Regions from separate parts of the Homo sapiens genome. Here region 1 is linked to region 2. Evidence: fine-mapped QTL for protein levels in blood plasma. Region 2 holds a variant in brackets. A gene starts in the other region. All regions are shown on their forward strands.

Evidence for each region. A credible set is the group of variants that fine-mapping cannot tell apart. PIP is the chance, under the fine-mapping model, that this variant and not a neighbour inherited with it causes the effect. The UK Biobank Pharma Proteomics Project read protein levels with antibody pairs (Olink). The fine-mapping took linkage between variants from a reference panel, not from the people measured, so its PIPs are less certain.
Region 1: it holds the start of CCL21, and the variant in region 2 is the best candidate, but not a certain one, in a credible set for the plasma level of the CCL21 protein (UK Biobank, PIP 0.59).

The regions. Positions count from the first base shown.
Region 1 is chr9:34,702,435-34,717,659 of GRCh38, forward strand. It overlaps CCL21 (C-C motif chemokine ligand 21), which reads right to left and starts at 7,702. Exons shown (of 4, transcript NM_002989.4): 1 at 7,566-7,702; 2 at 7,343-7,463; 3 at 7,066-7,248; 4 at 6,571-6,993. The coding sequence starts at 7,632. The coding sequence ends at 6,960. It also overlaps a transcript of PHF24 not described here.
Region 2 is chr5:116,006,175-116,021,303 of GRCh38, forward strand. It overlaps LVRN (laeverin), which reads left to right. Exons shown (of 20, transcript NM_173800.5): 14 at 4,567-4,720; 15 at 6,200-6,294; 16 at 8,246-8,353; 17 at 9,078-9,245; 18 at 9,454-9,591. Among named protein-coding and RNA genes, the nearest start is that of ARL14EPL, 19 kb to the right of the region's middle. The variant T/G (reference allele first, on the strand shown) is at 4,374.

The DNA of each region.
Region 1 (15,225 bases), not on the chromosome of region 2:
GATTGAAATTTATTATTACCACAACCCATGATTCTAAAGCAAAAGTCTCAAAGAATATGGTAACAGACTTTCTCTGGGGTGTTTTAGTTTGCTGCCTACTGAGAAATGGTTGTCTTGAAGAAAACAGAGCTTTCAGCTTCTTGACATAGCAATAGACGTAGGTCACCAAGGTCACAAGGTCATACAATTCCCCTTAAAGTAGGCACTACTAGAAGAATTACAAATATAGGCCTGGCACAGTGGCTCTTGCCTGTAATCCCAGCACTTTGGGAGGATGAGGCTGGAGGACCCCTTGAGGCCAAGAGTTGGAGACTGCAGTGAGCTATTACTGCACCATTGCACTCCAGCCTGGGCAACAGAGTAAGACCCTGTCTCAAAAAAAGAATTACAAATATAGGCGTTAGAAAAAAAGAGAGTTGGCAATTTCAGCATCCATAAAAATGGTAATCCAGCCCAAGACTGATGGCAAAGGATAGAAACGTTGATGACTTTAACAAAACAGCATTATTTTGTCCCCAGATACAAGGAGAAGTAATGCCTGGATGTGAGAAAGAAAAAGAACTTCACAAAGGATACCAGCTGAAGCTTAAGACATATTTCACAGGTAAGCGATTATAGCTGGGAAACAAATTAATGTCACCTTTCATAGACAACAAGTGACAGACCCCACCCCTCTGACTCCCACTAGGTCATTTGGCATGGTAGAGGATACCTAGTGTGTCATTCTGGTAGCCCCATAATTTAAATTTTTTTTTTTTGAGACGGAGTCTTGCTCTGTTGCCCAGGCTGGAGCGCAATGGTGTGACCTCGGCTCACAGCAACCTCCTGGGTTCAAGCAATTCTCCTGCCTCAGCCTCCCGAATAGCTGGGATTACAAGCACCCACCACCATGCCTGGCTAATTTCTGTATTTTTAGTACAGATGGAGTTTCACCATGTTGGCCAGGCTGGTTTCGAACACCTGACCTCAGGTGATCCACCCGCCTCGGCCTCTCAAAGTGCTGGGATTACAGGCATGAGCCACTGCCCCCAGCCCATTATTTTTAATTTTTAAAAGAAAGGTATCAAAAGAAAGAACCCGACAGTTGTTGGTAATCACAGCCCTCTAAAAGGATATCATTAATAAGTAGGAATTGTGGCCAGCCAAAGTGTGGCCCAAGTATCCTGAAGGGAGGGGTTCTTAAGAAATCTGATTGCTTACTCTTTAAGAGTTTTTTTGTAGGCTACTTTGCCTATGGAGTAACCATTCTTTTATTCCTCTACTTTCTTAATAAACTTGCTTTCACTTAAAAAAAAGTTTCTTGTAATAAAATGTAGAGACAGGGCCTTGCCATGTTGTTCAGTCTGATCTCAAACTCTTGGGCTTAAGCCGTTCTCCTACCTCTGCCTCCCAAAGAGCTGAGATTACAGGTGTGTGCCACCGCACCTGGCCGACTGCTTACTTTGGAATTGGTTTCAGGTTTATAGGACTAACTGAGGCTTGTTTGTTTTTCACTGCAGCCTCGAACTCCTGAGTTCAAGAGATCCTCCCACCTCAGCCTCCCAAAGTGCTGGGATTATAGGCATGAGCCACGGTTCCTGGCCTGAGATCTATTAGCTCTAATTTTTTGTTTTTTAAAGGTGGGGTATTGCTCCACTATGATCAGCTATGGTGTGATCATAGCTCACTGCAGCCTCGAACTCCTAGGCAATCAAGTGATCCTCCCACCTCAGCCTCCAAGTCGCTAGGACAATAGGCCTGTGCCACCGTGCCTGGCTAATTCTTTCTTTTTTTTTTGTAGAGACAGGGGTCTTGCTTCGTTGCCCAGGCTGGTCTCAAACTCCTGGCTTCAAGCCATCTGCCCACCTCAGCCTCCCAAAGTGCTGGGATTATAGGCGTGAGCTGCCATGCCCAGCTAGCTCTAATTCTTTACTAGTCCCACCTATCCTCTATATCTGTATCAAAGAAGCCCTTAAAATATTGACAAGGAAGGAGTGAACCGGGAGAAGCAGGAGGAGATTCTGAGGCAACACTGACAAGTGGGAGTCAGCCCATGATTTCATTAGTGTGTGTGTGTGTGTGTGTATGTTATCATTTTGTGGAAGAGATAGTGGTGAAATTATTTAAAAACATGGTATGGCCAGGCACAGTGGCTCACACCTGTAATCCCAGCACTTTGGGAGGCCAAGGTGGGAGGATCCCTTGAGCTCAGGAGTTTTAAGACCAGCCTGGGCAACATAGTGAGACCTCGTCTCTACAAAAAATGAACAAAATTAGCTGGGTGTGGTGGTGTGTGCCTGTAGTCCTACCTACTCAGGAGGCTGAGGTGGGAGGATTGCTTGAGCCCAGGAGGTTGAGGTTGCAGTGAGCTGAGATTGCGCCACTCACTTCAGCCTGGGTGACAGAGCAAGACCCTATCTCAAAAAAGGAGCAAATAAAAACAACAAAAATACATGGTATTAGTAATTTTCTGGATGACACTGAGGAGGACTCATTGTTAGAACATAGTGATAACTCACTTTTAAAGCAATAAATTGCTTCTGTGGTTCTGTGATAAAGAAAAGTCAGGATTCCAGGGATTAAAATGAGTTTTCATGCTTAAGGAATGAAGATTTTGTAGATTTTAGAGATAATTCATCTTTAGGATTTTTTTTTTTTTACATCTCTAGTAGAAGTCATTGTTTCCCTGTTGGATACTGGCATATGAATATTCAGTAAATATGAATTTTTACTGTATTCACGAATAAGACATTAGAAATCCTTCATATTTATAATTTGATTTTATGCTTTGTATCTATTTTTATTGAAATATTTACGTGTCTCAGCAGTAGGCTTTTGGAAAGTTACCTTTATCTCCTCTCCCATTTGGGCTCTTGGGGGTTTATGCCTTTATTTTATTTTTAAAATTAATTTATTTACTTTGAGACAGGGTCTCTCACTTTTTAGCCCAGGCTATATGGCTCCCAGGCTCAAGTGATCCTCCCACCTCAGCCTCCTGAGTAGCTGGGACCATAGGCACATGCCACTACACCAGCTACTTTTTTTTATTTTTTGTACAGACGAGGTCTCATTGTGTTGCCCAGGTTGGTCTCAAACTCCTGAGCTGAAGTGAGCGTCTTGGCCTCCCAAAGTGTTGGGATTACAGGCGTAAGCCACTGCGCCTGGCCTTGCTTTATGCCTTTACACGCATACATGCACCAAAAAAATTTACTGTAGTTTTAGTCGGGGCTCAGTGAGAAGTGAAAATAAAGGCATGTAATTAATTTTCCATCCCTACCCTGAACTCCGATTTGTTTTTAAATTTAATGGTGTTGATCTTTAATGATTTACGTTTTATGGTTTTATGACTTGTTTAAGAAACTCTTTTTGGCCAAGCAGAGTGGCTCATGGCTGTAATCCCAGCACTTTGGGAGGCTGAGGCGGGTGGAGCGCTTGAGCCCAGGAGTTCAAGACCAGCTTGGGCAATATAGTGAGACCTGGTCTCCATTTTATTTTAAAAAAAAGTTATTTTATACCTCGAAGTTATAACCACATTCACCTATATTTTCTTCTACGTATATCTTAAACATTATGTTTTGAATCCATCTCATATGATGAAGAATTTGAAAGGCAATGTCAAGATAGAGGTATTTTAAAAAGGGAAGGGCATTAGAACCTTTAAGAAAAACAAAAAGATGAGTGACGAAGGAAAAGTGCACTACTTTTGTCTGCAGAGAACATTTATATAGTCAAAATAATGTAATATGTGATAATACATATTATGTAATAGTAATCCACAATAATATAAACTGTAATTATGATCTAAATATGGTAATATAATCATGATCTAAATATTATGGTATGACTATATTTAGAGGATGCAGTGACAGGAGAGGAGAGTTGGCAAGAGAGTTAGATCTTCACTTTTTATAGTAGGAAGTCATCTGGTAATGTTTAAAATAGGTAAATCAAGAAACAGAGGTATAGGCAAAGTACTTAGACATATGGCACTAAGAAATAGCATAGGAGTTAAAGTTGTAGGAAATTATGTTATTCAGAATAAACCTTTTGGTACTTTTGGATATATTTTTTAACTGTGAGTGTGTATTATGTGATATTTTTTGAATTATGCATCAAGAGAATAAGAGAGAAAAGAGAAAGAACAGGACAATGTTGTCAAAGATGAAGGCAGACAAGGAGAGTGGCCAGTCATGATCTGATGGAATAAATAATATATTGCATGCTTACTCAGAGCAGGGCTTGAGGCAAATACCAGGCATGCAGGTGTGGCAGGAGAATTTAGTGAAATAGAGAGTTTTGTTTTTTCTGCCTATGTTTTTCTTTTCACTATAGAGTAGGCAAGAGTTTTGGCAGGGCTGGGAGTGATGTCCTGATGTCAAAGGGAGCCTGACGTCAAAGGCCTTTTGTAAATGTCTTACACCAGGGGAAAATGCCGGGCATAGAGGCTCACACCTGTAATCCCAGCAACTTGGAGCCTGAGGCAGGAGGATCCCTTGAGCCCAGGAGTTTGAGGTTACAGTGAGCTATGATCCTACCTTTGCACTCCAGCCTGGACTACAAAGCAAGCCTTAAAAAAAAAAAAAAGTAAACTTGTAAACTTGGGGAAGAGGTTATGCCCTGGAGGGGCTGAGGAGAGGGAGACAATTGTTTAGGACTGCGAAGGGATTAGTGTGTACATCCAGCCAGAGTGGGCACTGGGCTCTAATTTCTGTCTGTGATGGGGCAAGTGACAGGACTGTTGAGTAGATGGCTTCGGGGGTATCTGGGGAGGTCAAGTCCAAGCCCAGAGGCTGTCATATCTGAATTCTTATGTCTCAAATGTGGAGTCTAGGACTTGAAGAGATATACCTGCTGGAACCACAGGGGTCAGAACACTCACTGGCGAGACTGATGTCCAATGATAGGATGGTGTAGGAGGCAGGTAGGAGGCCTCCCTTGGGCCTTGAGGTTTCTGTGACCTTTGCATAACCCTTGGCAGGTGGGATCCCACAAGAGTGCCTGATGTTGAATTTCTCATCAGCACTCTAGTGCAGTAGCTTGGAGTAGGAATTAAGTTCATTTAAGGAACATTTCAAAAGTAGTATTTCTTGCATATCTGAGTTTATAGATTAATTTCACACCTGCTGCCCTAGGACAGGCAGGGGAGAGGCCCTGTCTTCACCTGCTGCAAGAGGAGCAGACAAGCCAATACTTGAGGATGTTAGGATAGGTGGTAAGTGCTGTGGCATACTCAGGCTCCTACAGAAGGAAAAGTTGATGGAGCAGCCACTTCTAGCTTCTGAGGTTCCTACCTTTCTTCTTCTTCTTCTCCTCCTTTTTTTTTCTTTTCCTGAAATGGAGTCTTGCTCTTGTCGCCCAGACTGGAGTGCAATGGCACAATCGATCTCACCTCACTGCAACCTCCGCCTCCTGGGTTCAAGTGATTCTCCTTCCTCAGCCTCCCGAGTAGCTGGGATTACAGGCGCCCGCCACAATGCCCGGCTAATTTTTGTATTTTTAGTAGAGACGGGGTTTCACCATGTTGGCCAGGCTGGTCAGGAACTCCTGACCTCATGATCCGCCTGCCTTGGCCTCCCAAAGTGCTGGGATTACAGGCCTGAGCCACCGCGCCCGGCCTTGAGGTTCCTACCTTTCTTGCCCTTCCCCAGGATCTGTTCCCTTCTTTCTCACATTGTCTGGCCCAATCTGATGGCTTCTACTCTCCCCGCCTGGAGGTGATTTGGGGAATAGAAGGGTCTTCACTCTGGGGAGGAAGAGGTAGAGGAGAGCCATCTGAGGCCTTCCAGGAGAGGAGACTGATTCACACCTGAATCCTGGGGTTCTGAAAACCTGCCCCAGGAGACTTATTCCTTGACTTCAAAGGGTTAAATGGGCTAAAGTAGTCTGGATCCCAGCCAGGAAAGAAAGGAGGAAAAAAAAAGGGAGGAGGTTTTTCCATCTGGAAGGAGGCTGAGTGAGTCCAGGGGCCCAGATAGGAATAGAAGGAGAGCACAACAGCCCCATTAAACAAAGAGGAGAGGTCAAGGCCCGAGCTTCACTGAATAGGGCTGAAGCAAGTCCCCTCGGGTCTTTGCCTCCCAGGGGCTCTCTCAGGGCTGGAACTGTGCTAGGGCAGGTTTCAATATAACTTGTGTTTGTCTGTGTTATAGATGGGCCCAAGCCACAGCTTCCCTCCTAGGGACCCTTCCAAAGAACCACTTGGAGGGTCTCATTGAATAGTTCCCAGGGAAAAGAGAGGAAGCCTCTGGGATATCTGGGGAAAGGTCTGAAGGTCATGGAAAAGATCCGAAGGTCACCCCTGGAGTTAGTGCAGGACAGAATCAGGGTCTCAGAGGTCTGCAGAGCTGTTGGGGGTGTGTGCTCCATGTCCACCACCTCTCCATTGGCAGGATGCCTCAGAAGACTGGGTCCTACCCTGTCCTTCAGCCTCCCTTTAACTGCTCAGGGGTGCAGGCACCTGAGAGGCAAGGAAACTCTTGGGGTAGATGAGAACATAGCATTTTTCAGCCTGAGCTTTCGGCTCAGAGTGTGTGACCCCACCCTGTAGGAACCTTGGCATCTCGGTGGACATAAACACATGGGAACAGGTACTTGGGTGGGAAGACAGAACAGCTTTTTATTCAGTTAGGTATAAATCATATTTACAAGGAAGAGGTGGGGTGTACTGGGGAGCCGTATCAGGTCCAGGGTCCTGATGATTCTCCTTCAAGGGGACAGTCCTGCTGCCTCCTCTCATGCTCCCTGGGAGACTCTCCCTCCTCGGTCTCTCTGGACCTGGCCTGCTGTGGGCAGCTCAGCCATGCAGGGTAGAGCTGGGAATGCAGATGGGGTGGTTAAAGCAGGAGAAAGAGTGTGGCAAGGCCAGCATGGGGTGGCTGCTCCAGGGCCCCTGAGCATAGCCTCCTTCTTGCATCTTGGGTTCAGGCTTCAAGCGCTGGTGAGGCTGGTGGGGTCTCCAGGGCTCCAGGCTGCTCACTGGGCTATGGCCCTTTAGGGGTCTGTGACCGCTCAGTCCTGTGAGGGCAGAAGAGGGGTGTGAGGGGCTGACTGAGGCTCCCCTTTACCCACATCCCTCAGATTCCTCACCTCTTGCAGCCTTTGGAGCCCTTTCCTTTCTTGCCAGTCTTGGAGGCCCCCCTGTCCTTCCTGCAGCCCTGGGCTGGTTTCTGTGGGGATGGTGTCTTGTCCAGATGCTGCATCAGCTGCTGCACCCAGAGCTCCTTTGGGTCTGCACATAGCTCTGCCTGAGAGCGCTTGCGGGGCAAGAACCTGCGGGTGGGGGCTAGTAAGCCTTCTTAGTCTTGCCCACCATGCCCTCCCCACCCCGTCACCAGCCAGTACCCACCCCTTTGTGTCCACTCACAGGATAGCTGGGATGGAGCAGCCTAAGCTTGGTTCCTGCTTCCGGTAGCTGCGGACAACCTTGGCGGGAATCTTCCTTTGGCTGTACTTGAGGCAACAGTCCTGAGCCCCTCCATCACTGCCTGCAGGGTGGGATTCACAGGGAGCCAGGGGCTGCTGGCAAGCTCCTATCCAGGCCTCTTGATCCCCTTAGCCCCATGCAAGGCCCCTCCCTGCCTTGGTACCTTGGGTCCTGGGGATGCCAAAGGCCAGAACCAGGATAAGGAGGCTCAGAGCCAGTGACTGAGCCATGTCTGTGGTAGAGGGTGAGTAAGAGGCCAGAGCTGAGGGTGAGGTGGGCAGCTGCAAGTTGGGGGTCTGTGCGTGGGCTGGGATTGGCCTGCTATTTATGTAGCTAGACACTTTCACTTCCCTTAACTTATCCCCACTCCTTTTCCTTCCTGAAAGCTGGATTTGCTGGCACCCAGCCCCACTTATCTCAAACTAAGTGGACAGTCCTCAGCTGCCAAATTTTATGTCCTCATTAGTTGAATATGTCTGGGCCTGAGCCTTCCTTCTATTCCCAGCTACTGCTTTCATGCAGGCCTCACTGCCTCTCCCCTGGAACACCATGACTGTCTCCTCACTACGCTCCAGGATCCATACCCTTCCCCTCCTTCCAGCAAATCTGATTATTAAATTGTAAGAGTTCTTTTTTTTTTTTTTTTTTTTGAGACAGGGTCTAACTCTGTCACCCAGGCTGGAGTGCAGTGGTTGATCTTGGCTCACTGAAATCTCCGCCTCCTGGGCTCGAGTGATCCTCCTACCTCAACCTCCCCAGGAGCTGGGACTACAGGCAAGCACCACTGCGCCTGGCTGATTTTTCTATTTTTTTTTTGTAGAGACGAGGTTTCACGATGTCTAGCCCAGGCTAGTCTTGAGCTCCTGGGCTCAAATGATCTGCCTGCCTCAGCCTCTTGAGGAGCTGGGACCACAGGCACATGCCACTACGTCCGGCTACTGTTTTCATTTTTCATTTTTATTTTTTCTAGAGATGAGGTCTTGCTATGTTGCCCAGTCTGGTCTTGAACTCCTGGGCTCAAGCGATCCTCCTGCCTTGGCCACCCAAAGTGCTGGAATTATAGGTATGAGCGACTGCACCTGGTCTGTAGCATAACCATTTTGATTCCCCTTTGCTTTCCTTTTCTATATATTTTGTAGTTATTTTCCTAATGGATACCTTGGTGATTATAATTAACATTCTAAACTGATAACAACCTAGTTTGAATAATACCAACTTAGTTTCAATGGTATATAAACATTTTGCTCGTATACATTTTAGTCCCTTCTTTATATTGTTATTGTCACAGATTACATCTTTATACATTGTGTTCCCATTGACATAGATTTATAATTATTGTTTAATGCATTTTCCTTTTAAATTATATAGAAAAAAGTGGGGCTACAAACTAAAAATACAATACTAGCTTTTATCTTTTTTTTTTTTTTTGACACAGGGTCTCGCTTTGTCACCCAGGCTGGAGTGCGGTGGCACAATCTCAGCTCACAGCAGCCTCGACCTCCTGGGCTCAAGTGATCCTTCCACCTCAGTCTCCTGAGTAGTGGGGCCACCATGCCTGGCTAATTTTTGTATTTTTTGTAGACACGAGGTCTCACTATGTTGCCCAGGCTAGTCTCGAACGCCTGACCTCAAGCAATTCACCCGCCTTGGCCTCCCAAAGTAATGGGATTACAAGTGTGAACCAGCATACCTGGCAATGTTGTTACTTTTTTTTTTTTTTTTTTGAGACAGAGTCTCACTCTTTCGCCCAGGCTGGAGTGCAGTGGCGTGATCTTGGCTCACTGCAACCTCCACCCTCCGGGTTCAAGCCATTCTCCTGCCTCAGCCTCCCGAGTAACTGGGATTATGGGCACCTGTCACCACATCCAGCTAATTTTTCTATTTTTTGTAGAGATGGGGTTTCACCATGTTGGCCTGGTTGGTCTCAAACTCCTGACCTCAAATGATCCGCTCACCTTGGCCTCCCAAAGTGCTGGGATTACAGACATGAGCCACTGCGCCCAGCCTGCTATGTTGTTATGTTTATCAGAGATCTTTGTTTCTTTGTGTGGCTGTGAGTTATTATTTTTTGTCCTTTTGTTTCATTCTGAAGGTCTTCCTTTAGCATTTGTTTGTTTGTTTGTTTGTTTTTTCTTTCTCCCGTTAGCTTTTCTTGTGGGCAGGTCTACTATTAATGAACTTCCTAAGTTTTGTTTATCTGGAAATGTCTTATTTCTCCTTAATTCTTGCAGCATAGTTTTGCTGGATATATAGAATTCTTGTTTGACTTTTTTTTTTCTTCAGTCTTTAAATATATCCCCCATTGTCTTTTGGCCTCCCATGGTTTCTGAAATCAGCTGGTAATCTTATTGAGAATCTCTTGTACATAATGAGTTACTTCTCTCTTGCTGCTTTTAAAATCTTTGGGTTTCAACAATTTGACTATAATTTGTCTTGGTGTGGATCTCTGAGTTTATCCTTCTTAGAGTTTGTGAACTTCTTGGGTATGTATATTCATGCTTTTCATCAGATTTCAGATGTTTTGTCATTATTTCTTCAATTTTTTTAATGCCCTGTTCCCTCTCTTCTCCTCCTGAGACTCCTGTGATGAGGTACATTTGATGGTATCCCTGAGGCTCGTTTATTTTTCTTCTCATACTTGATAATTTTAATTGTCTTATCATCAAGAATACTGATCCTTTTTTTTCTGCTTAAATTAGTTGTTGATTGCCCCTAGTGAATTGTACATTTCAGTTATTGTATTTTTGCTTCCAGAATTTCTGCTTGAGTCCTTTTTTTCTTTTTACTAATTTCCATCTCTTTATTGATAGTTTCATTTTGTTCATACACCATTTTTCAGATTTCCCTTAACTCTTTGCCCATGGTTTCCTTCAGCTCTTTGAGCATATTTAAGACAGTTATTTTTTTTTTCCAAAAGGGCCATTGTTTCCCAATTTAATTTGAGGTCATAATAAAACAAGCAACAAAGCAGTATTTGAGATTTCAGCTTCTCACCCTTATCATCAAACCTCCCATCATCAATATTTATTGAGCATTTACAGTAAGACAGTTAAAGTCTTCATCTACTATGTCCAATATCTGGGCTTCCTCAGGGATAGTCTCTGTCAAATTCCTTTCTTCCTGTGAATGGGCCATACTTTCCTATTTCTTTGTATTAGTAATTTTTTGTTGATAACTGGGCATTCTGAATATTACAGTGTGGTATCTCTAGAAATTCAATTTTTTCACTCCTTAGGGATTGCTGATATACACTTGTTGAGAACTCTGCCATCAATTTGTGGTGACTTTTTCAAACGGTTTTTTGCAAAGTGTGTATTCTTTGTTTTGTGGGGTTACTGAAATTTCTGTTTATGACCTGACAAAGGGTTCTCTTCCTTCCCCGCAAAAAGATTCTGTCCCTTTAAATCTTCTGATATATGTGGCTCAGGAAGATCCTGAAGCCCAAGAGGGCTGAAACAAAGCAAGCCTGTCCCTTAGGGAACCAGAAGACAAACCCAAATGCAAAACCCCTCATTTTTGGAGGACAGGGTTCCCCCTGCCCACTCAGTGACCACCCAGCTACTTCAGGAATGTGGGCTGCTATCCCCACTGTGTTGGTTGGTAGCTAGTGCATGCATTATGCTCTCTTCTGAAAGACCAGCAACCTCTCCCTTCATCAAGTACCACCCCCCCTGCTTGTTATAAGTGTCCAATCGGGCTCCAGACTTCTGAAAGAGTCGATTCCAATTGCTCTTTCCACCTCAATAGTTGCTTTGGTGGAGGGACCAACCCCTATAACTTCTTACTCTGCCATTTTGTATGATGTTTTTCTGTAGTTTAATTTTTAACATTTTAAAATCTTTTATCCATTTGGAGTTTATTATGGTATATGATGTGTGAGGGTTATTGGGTCATAACTTAGAATCTATATTTAATACTGGATTGGGACCTTAGAGTTGTAATCCTCACGTCAGAGCTGGAGAATCCATCTGGTTTCCAGAGTGCTAAACTCAGCAGCAAGCTCCTTACATCTTGTTTTTTGAAGGATGGCTTATGACAGGATAGGGAAACCATAGGAAGAGGAGGAAATGAGTGTCAGGAGAGATGTAGTCAGGACAGCCATGGCCAGAGACAGAAATATTGGGTTGCTCTTGGGGAAGGATGGGATGCAGAAGGCATGGGGTTGAAGATGGAGGTACTGTTGGGAGGGGGATAAAGAGGTGGTGTTTCATTCTAAGGTCCACAGAGTAGAGGGGCTGGAATTTGGTGGCCTAGAGGAGAAATAATTGAGCTCTTGAGTCTGAGGTTTTCAGACTCAAGAGACCTTAAGGCTGAGACCTTAAGCAGGGCAGGGAGTGACTCTGTTGGCAAGAAGCTGGTGTTCCTGGAACAAGACTAGGCAAAAACAAGGAGATAAGATTTCTTGGATCTTTTACCTGGTCTAGAGGCAGATCCTGGAACCAGAAAGTTTTAAATTCCCAGCTCCCTGGTTTCCCCACCTGCCTAATGGGAGTGACTAAGAAAGTAGTGAGCAGCCTGTCTCTGAGGAATTCTCAGACAGATAGAATAGCATGGGCTTGGGAGGGGGCATGCAGATAATTCCGAAGTCATATTATATTAGTTTGCTTCCAAACTTGGCTGCACTTCAGAATCACCTGGGTGACTTTTTAAAAACAGAATTAGAAGCAACACGCCAGACCGCCTTAAATAGAATCTCAGAATAGAGCCAACAAATGTGTATTTTTACCAAGTTCTGCAGGTAATTCTAAGCATTTGGTGGGGTGGGGCTGGGAGAGCCACTTGGGCCTATTCTGCTCCCCATCCCACACTCTAGATTGACACAGAGCCGGTGAAAGGGAACAAAGTTGGTCTGGGGAAAGGAAAGCTGGAGTGATGCCCCCTCTACCTCCCCTGGAGGAGGAGACTTTCTCGCCTGGCACAGATTGTAGAAAAAAAGGAGAGATGGCAGGGAAGAGGAGGGGGCTGTACCTTTTTCTTTCCTAAAAGCTTAGGCTTGCTTTCTCTCCAAGATACCTGCCTGTCTCCCTTACCCTTATTCATGCCATGAAAGAAGCTTCTTGTTGTGTCAGATGGTGTGCACAACCCCCTAGGTCCCATCTCTGCCTGGTCTTCCTAGATGCAGGAATCTAGGTTGATTAGGCATCAACCCTAAGCCCCTGCCTGTGAACTTGAGCCTGCAGTGGTAGAGCAGTCTCAGGGAGATGTTACATCCTGGAGATATTGAGGTCTGTCTGCTTGGTGCTGGAGCTTAGAATCAAGGTTAGGAGCCCTAAGGGAAATGAAGGAAGCAGTAGGGGCTTTTCTGGAGGTGGAAACCTGGCTGGACAAAATCCAGCGCAGAAAACAGCTGCCCTGAGAGTGAGGATGGGATAGCGAGTCCCTACCCCGTCTCCAGTCTGTGAGTGGACCTGGTGGCAGGGGTGGTGAGAGGGAGGCACTGAAGCAGGGTAGAAGAGAGTGAGGAGCTCGGATGATGAGAGAGCCATTACCCTTTTCTGGGACCCCAAGTCTTCTGAGCCATTCCTCTGCCCTCAGCTGCTGGCCTGGGTTTATTGTACCCCACAGCCCCACTTGAACTGTAAGCTGGGTTTGGGGATTTGGAGCCTGCAGCTTTGACCCAAGCTCCTCTCAGTCCTCAGACCAGGCTGGATGCAGAGCTTGGGGAAGGGGACACAAAGACTCAGATGGCTGCACATCCGAGATGTGGGTCTCCACCTACAGTTCCAGTCCTCTGGGTGAAGATGTTGGCTTGGTGAGCTCCTGAGAGAAACTGGCTACTTTGTGACAACCTCTGGGATGGCCTAGGTGCAGAGGAGTGCTTCACTGGTACCTGGGGTGAAGGATAAAGGAGGTACACATGGCTGATTTCAGCCCTACCCGTGATGATGAATTCACCAGACTGAGATCCTGGGAGGGGGAGAGGAAGTGTGCTTATTCACACCTACCTCAGCAGGCCCACTACCTCTCTAGGACAGGCACCTGGAGTAGACATCCTAGGTGTGGGTGTTGCAAGAGTCTGGAAATCCCCTAATTGGAAAGGGCCACATTCCCTTCAGTCTCAGGCCCGTTTGCTCTTGCCTGGTGGGGTTTCCAGGGCAGCAGATGCTCCCAGCTTGGCAGGCAAGAGCCAGGGAGGGGTATGGCGGGAATTTCAGCTCAAGGGCTAGGCAAGTCCTGGAATAGGATTGGGGTGGGCTGGGGCCCATGGGCCTGTATATCCAACAAAGGTCAAAGGGCCTGGGTGCGTTGCTGCTCCTGGGTTCTCAGCGGAGCATTGAGCCCTCTAGAAATAAGATGCCCTGTGGACTGTGCAGCCGTTACTGAAGGAGCTACTCAGTTTCTCGGAGTCATAAGTGTGCAAAATGTGTGTGTCTAGTGTAGTTGCATGCATTCATCAATGTGTAGCTCTACCAAGGGTTAGGGTTAGAGTTAGGATTATGCTTAGAACAGCATTGATGTTGTGGTTCCAAATTGGATAGGGCTGGAATCATGGTGATGTTAAAGTAGGATTTGGAATTGGGTTTGCGGTTCCTGTTGATAGAAACAGGCGTATCTTAGATGAGGATTGTGTTAGGGTTGGAGTAGGGCACTGCTTGCATTTAGGATTTGGATTAAGAGTGAGGAGATCTTAACCTAAATCCTAAATGATCTTAATCCAAGGAGATAAATTTTGTGTTGGAGGTTGCTTTTAAGTTTTCTCTCTCTCCTTTTTTGTTTGTTTTGTTTTGCTTTGTTTTGTTTTGTTTTGTTTTGTTTTGTTTTGTTTTGTTGAGACAGGGTCTCACTCTTGTCACCCAGGCTGGAGTGCAGTGGTGCAATCTCAGTTCACAGCAACCTCAGCTTCCCAGACTCAAGCTATTCTCCAGCCTCAGCCTCCTGAGTAGCTGGGACTACTGATGTGACCCACCATGCCCAGCTGTTTTATTTTATTTTACTTTTGTACATTTTTTTTGTAGAAAGGGGGTTTCACCATATTGCCCAGGCTGGTCTCCAACTCTTGAGCTCAAAGCGATCTGCCCACCTCAGCCTTCCAAAGTACTGGGATTACAGGTGTGAGTCACTGCACCCGGCCTGGTTTTAAGCTTTCAAGCTAGTCTGGAGAGGGACTTACGCTTCTGCATAACGTGTGGTATTGATCTGATGTAGATGACAAGTTGTTGGCTGTTTTCCAGGACCTCCACAGGTGAGGGGCACAGAGTGGCCCCTGCAGCTATGATCCAGCTAGAGGAGGGAGGCATTCAGCTCCTGGGGAGAGGGCAGATCAGTTTTCTATCTCAAACTTATTTGGCCATGTAAACATTTTTGGATCACACCCACCAGCATTATCTGTCTGGGTACAGTTGTTCCCAGAGTCTTATTTGAAAAACTATGATTTAGAGTTTTCTTTGGGAATGGGGTTGGAGTTGGGTTTAGAGGTGTGGTCAATAAGGTTGGGATTGTGGGTTAACATGAAGTTTAGGCTAGAGCTACATATGAGATCATGTCTTGTGTAAGGGTTTTCTAACTGGGGAACCAGGACCTGGTTCTTCATGGTTTCCCGAGGATAACGTGGACTAAGTGTGTCTACCTGGTTTGTTCTTCCCTTGTGTCTGCTATGTCAAAGAGTCTGAGAGTCAGGACCCTTCAAGGATGGAGCCAGCAGTAAATTGGGGGCCCTCAGGGAGATGGGTGTGTAGGTGAAGGATGAGGCTGCTGAAGAGGGCAGTGGACTCTCTTCCTGACCCTGACATTCTTTAAGAGCACACAGCCACATTGTTGAGACCAGGGGTATGCACGTGAAACCAAAGCTATCCTATTAAAGGACAAGCAATAGGACAGAAACG
Region 2 (15,129 bases):
TTCTGTTTTCCAAGGGTGATGGCTATAATTTTAATGCAATCTTGCCTGTATTTTAATATATTGCAGAATTATTTATTTTATTTATATTAGATTTACTCAGTGTAAGATATGCTGCTAAGTGTTTAACCAGGTAAATTAATAAATGTTCAGAATTTAAATTTTCAGGCAATAAAATTAAGGAATATATGTAATACATTATCTAGTATTTTTTCTCTTTCTTTAGCCAGCCGTATTGTTTGAATAAATGTCTACTTATTTTATCCTTCTTTCCTCCTTTTTCCCTCTGTGACTTACAGTACATTTCCTTGTCTAATACTTGGCTGAAATTCCTCTCTCTGTCTCTAAGATCACCATGACTTTGCTATTATTGACTACATCCACCTGAAAATGTCATTTTGGCTTCCTGAGACTCTGATATGCAAACCTGGTTCTCCTCATGTATCTGACTCCTCTTCTACTGCTGTGAGCTTCTTAGGACCAATCATGGTTACATTACTTTCTTCTATCTTTTCTTTGATAACTCATTCACTCTAGGGTTTTGGTGACCATTTTATTACGTATCTGTAGAGTGCCAGCAGATGTAAGGTCCTCAGTAAATGTTTGCGGAAGGACATGTTGATGACTTCCAAATCTACATTGCTACTTATCTTTCCCCCTGTCTTAGGTTTATCCTGTGGTCATACAAATACAGTGCCTTAAACACTGAACTTCATTTTTGTCTCCACCTTGCTCTTGCTATCAATTTTTCCCTGCATGTCAAAGTTACTCTTCTTTTCATCACCCAAACTTGAAACCTCAGAGATATCCTTGATTCCTCTCTTTGCTTCATCTTACATGCACAGTCACCAAGTCCTATCTCTTCATTCTTAGAAATGTCTTTTGGAGGCTCACTTTACCACTTTCACTGCTCCCACACTAAGCCAAGCTTTCATCATCTCTTGCCTGGCCTATTAAATTAGCCTCCAGCCTTCGGTCCTTTTGAATTTCATTCTGTCTTCTTTAACACTATTGCAATAAAATTGTTAGACATCAATTTCATTATGCTATTCCAATTGTTTAAATACCCAGAGTACCTTTCCACCTAATCTAAACTCTTCATCCTGACATTCAAGGATCTTCACAGGTTTGAGCCAACTTACCTATTAGGCCCCATTTCTCACTATACAAAAAGGAAATCCCCTGCCTCAGTTAGCTTCATCGGCCCATCACACTAATTCCCACCTTATCTTATTTGTCCTGGACTGCCTTCCTCTTTTTCTACCTATTTTAATCCTATGCATCCTTCACTGCTCTTCTCAAGTTTCTCCTCCATGAAGCCTTCCTTGACTTTTCTATCTTATCCCTGACTTTTATATGTGCATATTTTCCTTCTTTGCTACTTTGTAGTATTCACTGCCTTTGGGACCTTTCATTACTGGTTTCTTATGCATAAGTCTCATCTCTTCATTGAAGCTCCTCAATGGTAGGCAAGTGCAGTGTCATATGTACTACAGGCATACCTCGTTTTATTGTACTTTGCTTTAAGACTTCACAGATATTGCATTTGTTACAAATTGAAGATTTGTGATAACTCTGAGTCAAGCAAGTCTATCAGCATCATTTTCCAGCAGCATGTGCTCATGTTATGTCTCTGGGTCACATTTTGGTAATTCTTACAAAATTTCAAACTTTTTCATGATTGTTATATCTGTTACAGTAATCTGTGAACAGGAATTGATGATGTTATGACTGTAATTGTTTTGGGGTGCAATGAATCATGCCTGTATAAGGCAGCAAACTTAATAATTGTGTGTGTTCTGACTGCTGCACTGGCCAGCCATTCCTCCATCTCTCTCCCTCTTCTTTGGCGTTTCCATTCCCTGAGAATCAGTACTATTGAAATTAGGGCCGGGTGTGGTGGCTCATGCCTGTAATCCCAGCACTTTGGGAGGCCGAGGCGGGTGGATCACGAGATCAGGAGATCAAGACCATCCTGGCTAACACAGTGCAAACCCCATCTCTACTAAAAATACAAAAAAAATCAGCCAGGTGTGGTGGTGGGCACCTGTAATCCCAGCTACTCGGGAGGCTGAGGCAGGAGAATGGCATGAACCCAGGAAGCAGAGCTTGCAGTGAGCAGAGATCATGCCGCTGCACTCCAGCCTGGGTGACAGAGCGAGACTCCGTCTAAAAAAATAATAATAATAAATAAATAAAATTAGGCCAATTAATAACCCTACAATGGCCTTTAGGGGTTCAAGTGAAAGGGGGAGTCCTGAATCTTTCACTTTAAATCAAAAGCTAGAAATGATTAAGTTTAGTGAGGAAGGCATGTTGAAATTGAGATAGGCCGAAACTAGGACTCTTGCTCCACATGGCCAAATTGTAGATGCAAAGGATAAGTTCTTGAAGGAAATTAAAAAGTACTGCTCCAGTGAATACATGAATGATTAAAAAAAAAAAAGTGAAACAGCCTTATTGCTGATATGGAGAAAGTTTCATTGATTAGGATAAAAGATCAAACCAGCCACAATATTCCCTTAAACCAAAGCCTAATCCAGAGCAAGGTCCTAACTCTCTTCAATTCTATTCAGGCTAAGAGAGGTGAGGAAGGTGCAGGAAAAGGTGCTAGTTTAAAGCTAGCAGAGGTTAGTTCATGCAGATTAAGGAAAGAAGCCATCTCCATAACAAAGTACAAGGTGAAACAGCAAATGTTGATGTAGAAGTTATAGTAAGTTATCCAGAAGATCTAGCTAAGATAATTGTTAAAATGGCTGCACCAAACAACAGGTTTTTCCATATGAAACAGTCTTATATTGGAAGAAGATGCCCTCTAGGCCTTTTATAGCTAGAGAGGACAAGTCAATGCCTGGCTTCAAAGTTTCAAAGGACAGGCTGACTCTCTTGTTAGGGGCTAATGCAGCTGGTAGCTTTAAGTTGAAGCCAATGCTCATTTACCATTCTGTAAATCCTAGGGTCCTTAAACATTATGCTAAATCAACTCTGCTTGTGCTCTGTAAGTGGAAAAACAAAGCCTGGATGACAGCACATCTGTTTACAGTATGGTTTGCTGAATATTTTAAGCCCATTGCTTAGATCTACTGCTCAGGAAAAAAAAAGATTCCTTCCAAAATATTACTGCTCATTGATGATGCACTTGGTTACACAAGCACTATGATGGAGATGTACAAGGAGATTAATGTTGTTTTCATGCCCACTAACACAATATCAATTCTTCAGCCCAGGGATCAAGGAGTAATTTCTGCTTTTAACTCTTATTATTTAAGAAATACATTTTGTAAGGCTATAGCTTCCATAGATAATGATCCTTCTGATGAATCTGGCCAAAGTAAATTGAAAATCTTCTGGTAGGGATTCATCATTCCAAATGCCATTACGAACATTTGCAATGCATGAAAGGAGGTAAAAAAAATCAATATAAACAGGAGTTTTGAAGAAGTTTTCAATCCTCATTGGTGACTTTAAGGGGTTAAGATTTCAGTAGAGGAAGTCACTTCAGATACAGTGGAAATAGTGATAGAACTAGAATTAGAAGTGAAGCCTGAAGATGCGACTGAATTGCTGCAATCTCATGATCAAACTAGAATGGATGAGAAGTTGCTTCTTATGGATGAGCAAGGAAAGTGGATTCTTGAGAAAGAATCTAATCCTGGTGAAGAAGCTATGACCATTGCTGAAATGACAACAAAGGATTGAGAATATTACGTATACTTAGTTGTCAAAACAGCAAGCAGGATGTGTGAGGGGATTGACTCCAATTTTGAAAGAAGTTTTGCTGTGGGTAAAATGCTATTAAACAGCATCGCATACTACAGAAAAATCTTTTGTGAAAGGAAATTGAGCAATTTGGCAAACTTTATTGTTGCTTATTTTAAGCAATTGCCATAGCCACCTCAGCTTCAGCAACCACCACCCTGATCAGTTAGCAGCCAAGGTTATGACTTGCTGAAGGCTCAGATTGTTGTTAGCATTCGTTGACAATAAGCTACTTTTAAATTAAGGTGTGCATACTGTTTTTCTTAGACATAATGCCATTGCTACTTAATAGGCTACAGTATAGTGTAAACATAACTTTTATATGCACTGGAAAATCAAAAAAATTGTATGACTTGCTTTATTATGATATTAGCTTTATTGTGGTCTGGAACAGAATCCACAATATCTCTGAGGTATGCCTGTAGTTGGTGTGCACATCAGTAGCTGTCAGAGCATTAGATAGAGAATGACTTCTAATTAATATTTGTTGAATGCAAATTATGCTGTCATAAGAATGCATACAGAATGCATAACTCTTCTATTTCCTAATAATCAGTCCAACATTTGGCCTGAATTTTCTCTAGCCTTCAAGACTTTGGACACTTGAAAGTACCAAA[T/G]TGAAATGGAAGGACTGTCAACTTTGCTTGGGTTTCATCCTTTCTATAAGATGGGACATTTACCTTCTCGTTTCTTGACTTATTCACATGCCTTATTGAAGTCATGCATTGAAACATGGAACAAATATCGAACGTATGCAAATTACTTAGCAAGTGAAGGTTTTTTGAGTGTGTGTGTTTTTAAATCAAACAGAAACAATTATATTGAGATTGAAACAGCACTTGAGTTAACCAAGTACCTTGCTGAAGAAGATGAAATTATAGTATGGCATACAGTCTTGGTAAACTTGGTAACCAGGGATCTTGTTTCTGAGGTGAACATCTATGATATATACTCATTATTAAAGGTAATTTCATTCTTTCTTATGTAGTTTTTAAATAAATCCTCTCTTCTTCTTTTCATATTTTAGCCAGCATCTGTGAGACAGGTCTTTTCCAAAGTAATAGTCTTAGTTCCATATATATATATATATATATATGGAAGTATATACATTTCCTTAACAAGGGCTGATTGATCTTAGAAGAAAATACCTTAGTCATAGACCTGGTCTAGGAGATGAGTGAGGTTTGGAAGGGTACTTCATTCTTGGTGAAGTGACAGTATGTCCTAAGAAACCAGAAGTGGATGGAAATGGTATGCCTGTTTTTTTTTTTTTAGGGAAAAGGATAGTATTTATTAGCAACTATTTTCCTAAGAGATTGTTAGGCAGCCAGAATGAAATGTAACAACTCTGTGTTTATAATTTCAATATTCTGACTCATAGGAACAGCACTTAAATCCAGAGAGATATATTCCAGAAAATGTAAAAATTTGAAGATGCTTTTGATATTAGGAAAAGAAAGAGAGAAATTAGAATTACTGAACAGAGAAATGACATGCCATAATAAATGAAAAAAAAATTTCCATTTTTAGATCTTAAACAGTAATTATAGGAAAAAATAGCAAAGGTAAAATCAAAGCGAAAGTTAGGTAGCCCTCTTTGGGGAGTTAGGGGTCACACAAACCAAAAAGTATGTTAGGTAATGATTTCAAGTGAATTTCTGGACCATTCAGAGGGTGAGATCACAAATACGTCTAACGGCCCCAGACTTTCTTTTTCCTAGTGGCCGAAGTACCAATGGGAATTAAGCTGAGCTTGGGATGGTGATTAATAAAAGAAGGCACTAAAATTTTGGTGGGATTGAGGAGGCTCGTTGATAACATCTGATGACTTGTTCTGGGTAAAGAAGTAAAACTAATATTTGTTTTCAAAGAATTTCAATGAACAGCAGCTAGTTAATTCTTAGGGATGTATTAGTAAATGTCTAACTTTTATAATTTTATATTTACCAGCTAATAGCTTATATTTATTTCAAAATTAGGGCTTCAGTGTGTCCAGGACATAAACCAGTTCTTTTTTTTTGAGGAATGTATACTTAGCATGGATGTTTTATGGTAGAAAGGCTATTTTATATTTTTACATTTCTTCTCTATTTTGAACATAACTGGAAATGTATGGGATGATGTTAAATGATCATTATAGCCAATATTTTTTGAGTTCTTGCTTTGTGCCAGGCAATGTGCTTGCAATATATTATATTATTTAATCCTCATAATACACTGTAACATTGGTATTATGGTAAACCACATTTTATGAAAAATGGAACTAAACCGAAAGAGGTTAAAAAATAAACCAGTTATATATTTAGTAACAGATAAAGGTAATTTCTGAAGAAATATCTGCCACTTGTCTATCAATGTCTTTTCAGATAAATAAATAGAAACACAGTGAAAATTCAGTGTTTGCAAGCCAGAACTAACAGTGTATTTTCTTTATTGTTTATAGAGGTACCTATTAAAGAGACTTAATTTAATATGGAATATTTATTCAACTATAATTCGTGAAAATGTGTTGGCATTACAAGATGACTACTTAGCTCTGTAAGTATGTTTTCAGAAGTGATAATTGAATAAAATGCATTCATATTAATAGGCTTCCAGAAGTAATAAAATAAAATCTTCATATCTGTTATTCATTGAGAGATTTTATATGCTATTATTATTTGAGAACAATAGCTCAGAGGTTGGTGGGCTACATGTATTCTAACAGAAGTTAATCGTTTGAGATCTTAATTTACCTGCAAAGCACGTGCATGTACACATAGGAGCTTATAGCTCTATATTCTCAAAGCCTAGACTACTGGTTGAAATTATAAATGTGTCCTACTATTGGTGAAGATGTACTAAGCAAAGCTAGCCTATACCAGTGAGTTGAAGGGCGTGGGAAAGCCACAGGGGAAAAGGTCCCATCTGTATTTTATTATTAACAGAAATTCAGTCATTATGCAGGTAAGATGAAGTAGGTTGACAGTGATATAGATCAGTCACTGCTATAGGTCTGTGAGCACAAGTTAGTTTCACAAATGACTTTCATATTACTGGTTTGGTGAGGAGAGTAAGCATATTGTCATGGTGGTCTAGGAAGGAGGCAAGAGGCAAAATGGGGTGGTAGTATTTCTGTCTTCCCTGTGCCCTAAGTTTTGTGTGTAGGATGGTCTCTAGATATAGGGAGGGACTCTGTAGCCAATAACGGTATAGGGATTATACCTACAACTTCTGGTAAACATCAGGTTCAAATCAATTAGACCAAGCAAGAAATACAAAATATACAAAGTATGATTATTCTGTCTCAATAGTACTCTTCTGGGAGGGCAGAAATTTTAGTGCTAAGGGATGTGATTAGAAGGACATAAAATGTAATGCATGAGTAGGTGGACAATGGTAAGGACTAGCTGGGATCAAGAATGGTTAGGCAATCTGTATGAATGAGTGGGAAGGCAAAAGTGTGCTCAATCAGGCAGCACATTTGTTAACCAGACATTTCCTTGGCTCTCCTAAATTGGACTGAAGTAGCCTACTTTTTATAGCATCCCAGGGACAGTTCTCTTCAGAGAAGCTCTAGGGAGTTAGACTGCACTTCCACAGAACTCCAGCTTGTTGCTACCGGCTTGAGATTGGGATGGGTGAGGAGAGGGGGTGAGTAGAGTATGTAAATGAATGCCTAGAACTGTCTCTCAGCGGACCTCCACCCTTGCACATTCCTCTTCAGCTTATCAGAAGGTCAGGCCAGGCTGGGTTGAAACTGGAGGACGGAGTAACAGAGATTTGGCGCTTGCGTTTTCTGGAAACTTATGACCAATTTGGGTTTCTTTACCCTGACCGCAAATCTGGAGTAGGGACCACAAGGCATCACTTACCTGGATTTATTATTGGTCTTCACTGTATTCTTTTGAACTTATTTTGTTTTGAAGTACAGTGTACACCCCTGCTCAGCTGTGAAAACAAATCAAACCAACCAAACACCTTTATTCTTTTCCTGAACATGTATGTAACAGCCAGGAGGAGTAGAAGAAACACACTAAAGCAAAAGAAAACAAATTGTAGAAGGAGAGAAATGAACTATTCCCTTTCCCTTTCTTTTATAGAGAAAGAACTTTATTTTAAAGTCTATTAGATTAGATACTCTGAAATCATTTTTTATCCATAAGGCAATTGCAGTAAAAGACAGGAAAAATAAATTGACAACAGCTGTGGAGAGTGTGTACACCCATGTGTGTTTAAGGGAGATGAAGGATGGCAGTAATTTGTTTCTAACTTTCAAAAAATACTGGCTTTAGGAGCTCTTTTTGGTGCCTAAGAGCCTCTCAGTAAATATTTCTCTGAATCTTAAATACATCTGTCATCCACAAAAACAATTTTTTAAAACAAACCTGATGTCATTGAAAGGATATTTAAAAATACCCATCTTTTTATGAAACACATATTCTTGGAGGCAGAGAAAATGAAGGTGGTAATGCAAAATAAACTGTTTTTCTTTGACTTTTTCTTCAAGAATATCACTGGAAAAACTTTTTGTAACTGCGTGTTGGTTGGGCCTTGAAGACTGCCTTCAGCTGTCAAAAGAACTTTTCGCAAAATGGGTGGATCATCCAGAAAATGAGTAAGAGTAATATCATAATTCCTCTTGTTTTTGTCCTATTTTAGCACCAGCAATTTCCCTTTTTGATGTACTCACTGTGGGAATGAGTGTTTTGCTTTCACTTGGTTAGGCGCTCTCTCCTACTATTCTTTTCAAATACCTTTTTTAAAAAACCAGTGTTTAATGTGGGTCTGTGTATAACGATAGACTAGAATTTATACAATGAATTGTCACCTAGGACCTCTCATTGCCAAAGCACTCTTCCAATAAGCACTTACTTTGAGCTGTCTATGCTTGTTTTGAGTCTTAATAGGTTGTTCTTTATGATTGTTTATGATTGTTATATCTATGAGTGCAGCAGAGCACCTCTCTCTCCATCTCTCTCTTAGTTTGTTGCCTCACTGAGCTCTGAAACTCTCATTTTGGTTTTATTACCTTTGATATAGCACCTCGGATGGACTCTTAGGAAACATGATAATCAGATACAAGACCAACTTGTATTATCAATATACTCTATACTATTCTAATTTACTTCTTTCTTAAAGCCCCTTAGTTTGGAATTTGATGATCTCTTCTCATGGAACTAATGCTAATGACAGTTCTGATAATTGCCTCTCTAGATTCCTACTTTTGACCTTTATATCTGTGACTATAAATATTTTTTCTAGATTCATACTTCTAAAATATGATAACCTGGGTAAACATAACTACTATGAAAAATATCATTTTATGTTATATTTTACAGAATACCTTATCCAATTAAAGATGTGGTTTTATGTTATGGCATTGCCTTGGGAAGTGATAAAGAGTGGGACATCTTGTTAAATACTTACACTAATACAACAAACAAAGAAGAAAAGATTCAACTTGCTTATGCAATGAGCTGCAGCAAAGACCCATGGATACTTAACAGGTGATTATGGTCAACTTACCTTGAAAGTTTCTGTTATAGGAATTAAATTAATAAAGGAAAAAAAATAGAAATGTGCTAATGTAAGTATTAAAACGTTGCGTATTTGTGCTTCACTACCTTAGAACCATGGGATTTTGATTTTGTTTATTTAAATTAACTCTTTATGTTGGATGTTTAAAATGTATTTTTTGAAAATGCACTTTTGCAGATATATGGAGTATGCCATCAGCACATCTCCATTCACTTCTAATGAAACAAATATAATTGAGGTTGTGGCTTCATCTGAAGTTGGCCGGTATGTCGCAAAAGACTTCTTAGTCAACAACTGGCAAGCTGTGAGTAAAAGGTAAGAAGGAAAGTGAGACCTTTCTTTCATTTAGGCCACTGGTTTGGCACTGGAAGCTCAGCTTTAGTCTAGCTTGGAAGCTCAGCTTTAGTCTAGCTAGGCCACAAACGTCCTTTGCATTGACTAGAAAAGTTATCATTTTTCCTTTGTTTAGTCTCACTACAAACTGCCTGTGTTATGGAAGAGCAATACATGAACTTTTAACTATGGCTTGAATATTTTTATCTTTTAGTTGACAACATGCCATACTCATAAAACAGTTGCCTATTCTACTTCTGGTGAATTTGCCTTAGTTCACTTTTCTTGCAATTCTGCTACAAAATGTTTCAGACTCAAATTAATTTGCTTTCTACATCTTATGCATTTATTTTTAGGGCTTAGTTTATATTCAGCAGTTTTGTTCAATTTTGCTAATAGTTTTGTTTGAATAGACTGTTACATTATTTATGGATTGTAAGAAGGAAATAAAAGTTCAACTTAATAACTAAAATTTTATTTATAGTCAAAATGACACAGGAATATTTACTTAGTTCTTTATACATCTGAATATTTAATTATCACTAATTAAACAGACATATTTGACATGATAATATGTATGTCACTAGTCCTCATGTAATGATGAAGGTAGTATAAAATTATAAGTAAAAAATCCTTATGCCAAATTAAATTTTATATTAATGGTGTGGAAAGTATTTATACTGAATTTGCTAAAATGTGACTGATCACTAACAAGTTAGCACTTAGTTTTTCTGACGCACATTCCACTGCATGCTACTTACGAAGATGGGGATGATAAGCCTTCTGGGACAGATGGAGACAATAGCTCAGTCAGTTCTGAAATTGTTTTAACCCTCACTTTTGCAGACTCACAGTGCATTTTAGCCTTATAAAGTCTACAAGAAGCCCTGCAGAAGGAAACCTAGAGTTTTCCATACAGTTTGACTACATAGCGTCTTCTAGGTATAGTTCTTCCAAACTCCAGCTTGGGATATGCTGATGTAAACAAAACGTCATTTTGCCAGTAGACCAGTTGTTCCAGAAGAAAGACTGATGGGAGAAACAAAATTTTCCAACCCTCTCATTTGGTTCTGGAACTGTAAAAAAAAACCCATTAGTTAACATTTAGGCCTTGTTTTCTTCTCTATAGAGTAATAGATGTATTTGATAAATTCTAAGATTCTTTCTAGTAATAAAAAGTTTTAGTCCTTCTACATCAAGGTGCAGTTCAAATTGTTATTGGAGATGTAAAAGGATTAGGACTTGGTATCTGATAAATGCTGTAGAGGAGAGATGGCAAGGGCTTTTGGGGATTTAAGGGGAAGAAAGGGATGTGCATGTGATTTGAACAAGCACAGTTGCAAATCTCCTCCTTCTACCTGGAGGACAGAACACCAGGAAATGCCTGGAGGCAGAGTTGGGAGGCCAACTTGGGACTAGTCACAGTAACTGGCAAGAGCTTAGAGCACTGGAGAGGAGTTAGGAGTGGGAAGGTAAGTTGAGGCTCAGAGAGAAGGACAGGGGTTAACAGGCCTTGAATATCATGTGAAGCAGTTTTATTTTGTGTGCTCTTCATTGGTGATGTCTTGTTTCTAACTGGTGTCGTATGTGAAGCACACACAGGCTGTCCTGATTATGACAATGTGTTAACACTATTGGAGGTCAATTCTAGAATCGGGGCATGGGGATAGACTTAACTAGAGCAGTGTAGCAAAGTGGAGGTTTCTTCCTCTAAGAACTATGGAAAGTGTCTCTTCATTACTGTCCTTTGTCCTTTTATTTATTGTGTTTAGTTTTTCATGTATCCACTAGATATATGGTATGTCAAAGAGTTAAGGCAATAGAATCTAGAATCAGATCAATCTTAGGATGAGGAGAGTGCTAAATATGTAACCTTAAACAAGATTTTTAACCTAAGCTTCAGCTTTCTCATTCATAAAGTGAGGATAATAATGAATAGGCTTTAAGATAATTTAATAATGTGCTATTTAAAGTGATTGGTACATAATAAATGTTTAATGTTCATTATTATTATCTTACTGAGATAATATGATGTATCTGCTTTATTACAAGTCCCTATATCATTCACTTTATTTCTTTTTCTCAATATTGTCAGTTTCTATTTTTATGAAATTTATAACATCCCTCAGCAGTATTAGAGTCTCATGTTTAGAATGAAACACACATTAATGTTGTTCTTTAAAATAACATGTTTAGTCTAGGCATGGTGGCTCGTGCCTGTAATCCCAGCACTTTGGGAGGCCAAGGCAGGACGATCACTTTAGCCCAGGAGTTTGAGACCAGCCTGGGCAATATAGAAAGACTCTATTTCTACCAAAAATTTAAAAATTAAAATAACGTGTTTATATATGCAATAATTACAGTTTTCACAGCCACCCATAAAATAATTGCCAATTAATAACCAAGACTCAGAAGTTAAATTACTTAAAGTCAATACCTAGTAAACAAAAGAACTTGAATTAAACCCGTATCCCCTGGCTCTGATTCCCGGTTCTCTATTTACTTTCTCCTAAGTAAGAAAATGCATACTTCTTAATTATTTATTTTATGAGAGTACTACTGAAAATATTTAATCTTTTAATGTGTTCTTAACTAATGCCTCATCTACATTTCCGGTGGCTCACGCCTGTAATAATCCCAGCACTTTGGGAGGCTGAGGCAGGCAGATCACCTGAGGTCGGGAGTTCGTGACCAGCCTGACCAACGTGGAGAAACCCCGTCACTACTAAAAATACAAAAGTAGCCAGGCATGGTGGCACATGCCTGTAATCCCAGCTACTCAGGAAGCTGAGGCAGGAGAATCGCTTGAACCCGGGAGGTGCAGGTTGCAGTGAGCCGAGATCACACCATTGCCCTCCAGCCTGGGTAGGCAACAAGAACAAAACTCCATCTCCAAAAAAGAAAGATATGCTATATCTTTTAAACATTTTGAGATGCCAAGATTTGTTCAAATATTTTAAATTTGTTTTACTTAGAAAGCTCATCTTATGACGTGATTTATTTATCTCAATTCCAGAAAATGTTTAAATAAATGAAGTGACTTTTCAGTTGATTTTTAAGAAATTAATAAACTTAATTTTTTAGGGTAGTTTTAAGTTCACAGCAAAATTAAGCAGACAGAGTTCCCATATATCCCTCTCCCCACAGAGACACAACCTCCCCCTCTATCAACATCCTGCATCAGAGCCACACATTTACAGTCACGAGTTGATTAACAACAGGAATACATTCTGAGAAATGCATCCTTTGGTGATTTAGTCATTGTGTGAACAGCATAGACTGTACTTACACAAACCTAGATGGTAGAGCCTACTACACACCTGGGCTCTATGGTATAGTCTATTGCTCCTAGGTTACAAACCTGTACAGCATGCTACTGAATACTGGAAGCAGTAGTAACACAGCGACAAGTATTTGTGTATTTAAACATATCTAAACATAGAAAAGATAATGTGCTAAAAGGCATTGTGCTACAATGTTACAATGACTATGACATTGCTAGGGGATAGGAATTTTGTAGCTCCTTTTTAATCTTGTAGGACCTCCCTCATACATATTGTCCATTGTTGACTGAAACATTGTTATGTGGCTCATAGCTGTACTATAATTGATGAATATAAACAGGCACATCATTATCACCCAAAGTCCCCAGTTTACAACAGGGTTCACTCTTGGTGTTGCACATTCTACGGGTGTTGATGTATTAATGTATAATGATGCATATTCACCATTGTAGCATCATACAGAATACTTTCATCCTTCCCTCTGCCCATAGTCAGTTGCTTTTTTATGAAAATGTTTGAATAATCTACTTCTTATTCCAGAAGATTTCATTTTATTTTTGTTTTTGCTTTTTAATGTGTAGAGTTTTTGGTTGCTAGTTTGGTCTTGGCTGTGGGAGCCAGAATCATCATCATGAGTACGAGCAGAGGGGCTTTGCGCCCCTCCCATAAGGTGGTATCTTGCTGGGATCTTGTGCTCCATTTCTACAGGGTGAGAGACAGACTGGCAGAGGCAGCTTGCCTAAATGCAAAAACAAACAAATACCATCTCAGGTCCAGCTTGGCCCTGGGCATGAAGTGACCAGTGCTGTGGTTTTGAGTACATCTCTCCCTTGTCTCAGAGCATTCATGGGCATATGTCTCACAGTGACATGCAGGCAAGCTCACAGACATCGTCTCCACACCAAGGCACATGTTGGAGTTGAGTACATCGCCAATAGCAGTGCAGGAACCGCTGCTCCTTTCAGCCAGGCCCAGAATTCTTCCTAGAAAGCCTAATCTGGAAATACATTTTGGAATATTTGATTAAATAAAACAACTTTTGGCTTGGTCTTGGTCTTGCCCCTCACTCTCATGTACAGGGCATTATACTGGTTGGTGTGGGAAAATTTAGTTAATTATTGGGCCAAAGATGATCTCTTGAATACTCATTCCAATGAGAAAGACTCCATTGGTCATAAAGCTACTTTCAAGTTACAGAAAAGTCAGTAGGTACACATAGCTATGAATAGGTCCTATGAAAGCATGTGAATAGTGATGAAGCAATAGTATTTTTGTGACTTTCCACTGGATGTGGTAGAAGCATTATTTGTTCCGTTATCATCTCTGTTAAATGGGCTTCACAGCATACAGAAAAACCACTTTTATTTGAATATAGAATACAGAGCATGATCAGTTTTAAACTCAACCTGTCCAAAATGAATCTTACCCTCTTCACTAAGCACTTGATTTTTTTTCTCCACATGTTATTATATAGCCTAAAGTCTTAAGCTTAAAAACTTGGAATTGTTTTCACTTCTACTTGGTTGTATTTCATGATGGGGAACACAGCCAAAAAGGCTAAACAGGAGCACAAGCAAAGTGAGAAGTTATCAGAGTGGAGGGTCCAAGCACTGGGGGGCCTGTTCCCATGGCATGGATCAGGCTGGATGCCTTGGTGTTCCCATGCTGGCCTCGTGGGCATCCTTGCCAGAAGGAATCTGACATGGCAGAGGACATGAAGGGAGGGGTAATGTGAGAAGAAGGAGAGGCAGAAAGGTGAGCCAGACTGGAGTACCCAAATCACTGTTCCCACACTAACGTTAGATGTTATCAACTTTTTAGAAAGGATTACTATATTGAGTCGTATTGGCTTTTGACTTCATATTAATTAGAATGTATTTGAACACCGGTGGGGGTAAACTATTCGTAATGCAATTTTGTTGAGTAATATTTGAAAGAGATTGCTCTCTCAACAAGAATGATAAATCATCTCTGTTTCAAAAATAACCCCTGTTGAAGTTGACAAGAGCAGGAAGGGATGAAGTTTGCCAGGTAATCTAATAGGTGCTTCCATATACATTTTCTCATTTATGCACCAGAACAATGCTTCTAAGTATCTGTTATTCTCCATTTTTACAATTTATAAATTGCCCAAGGTAATGTCAAATCCAGCCCTGCCTCCTCGGGTAAACTTTCTCCTGTGTCTGGCAGAAATTCACACATTTAGCACCATAGGTAGGTTTCCTCTGTTTTCCAT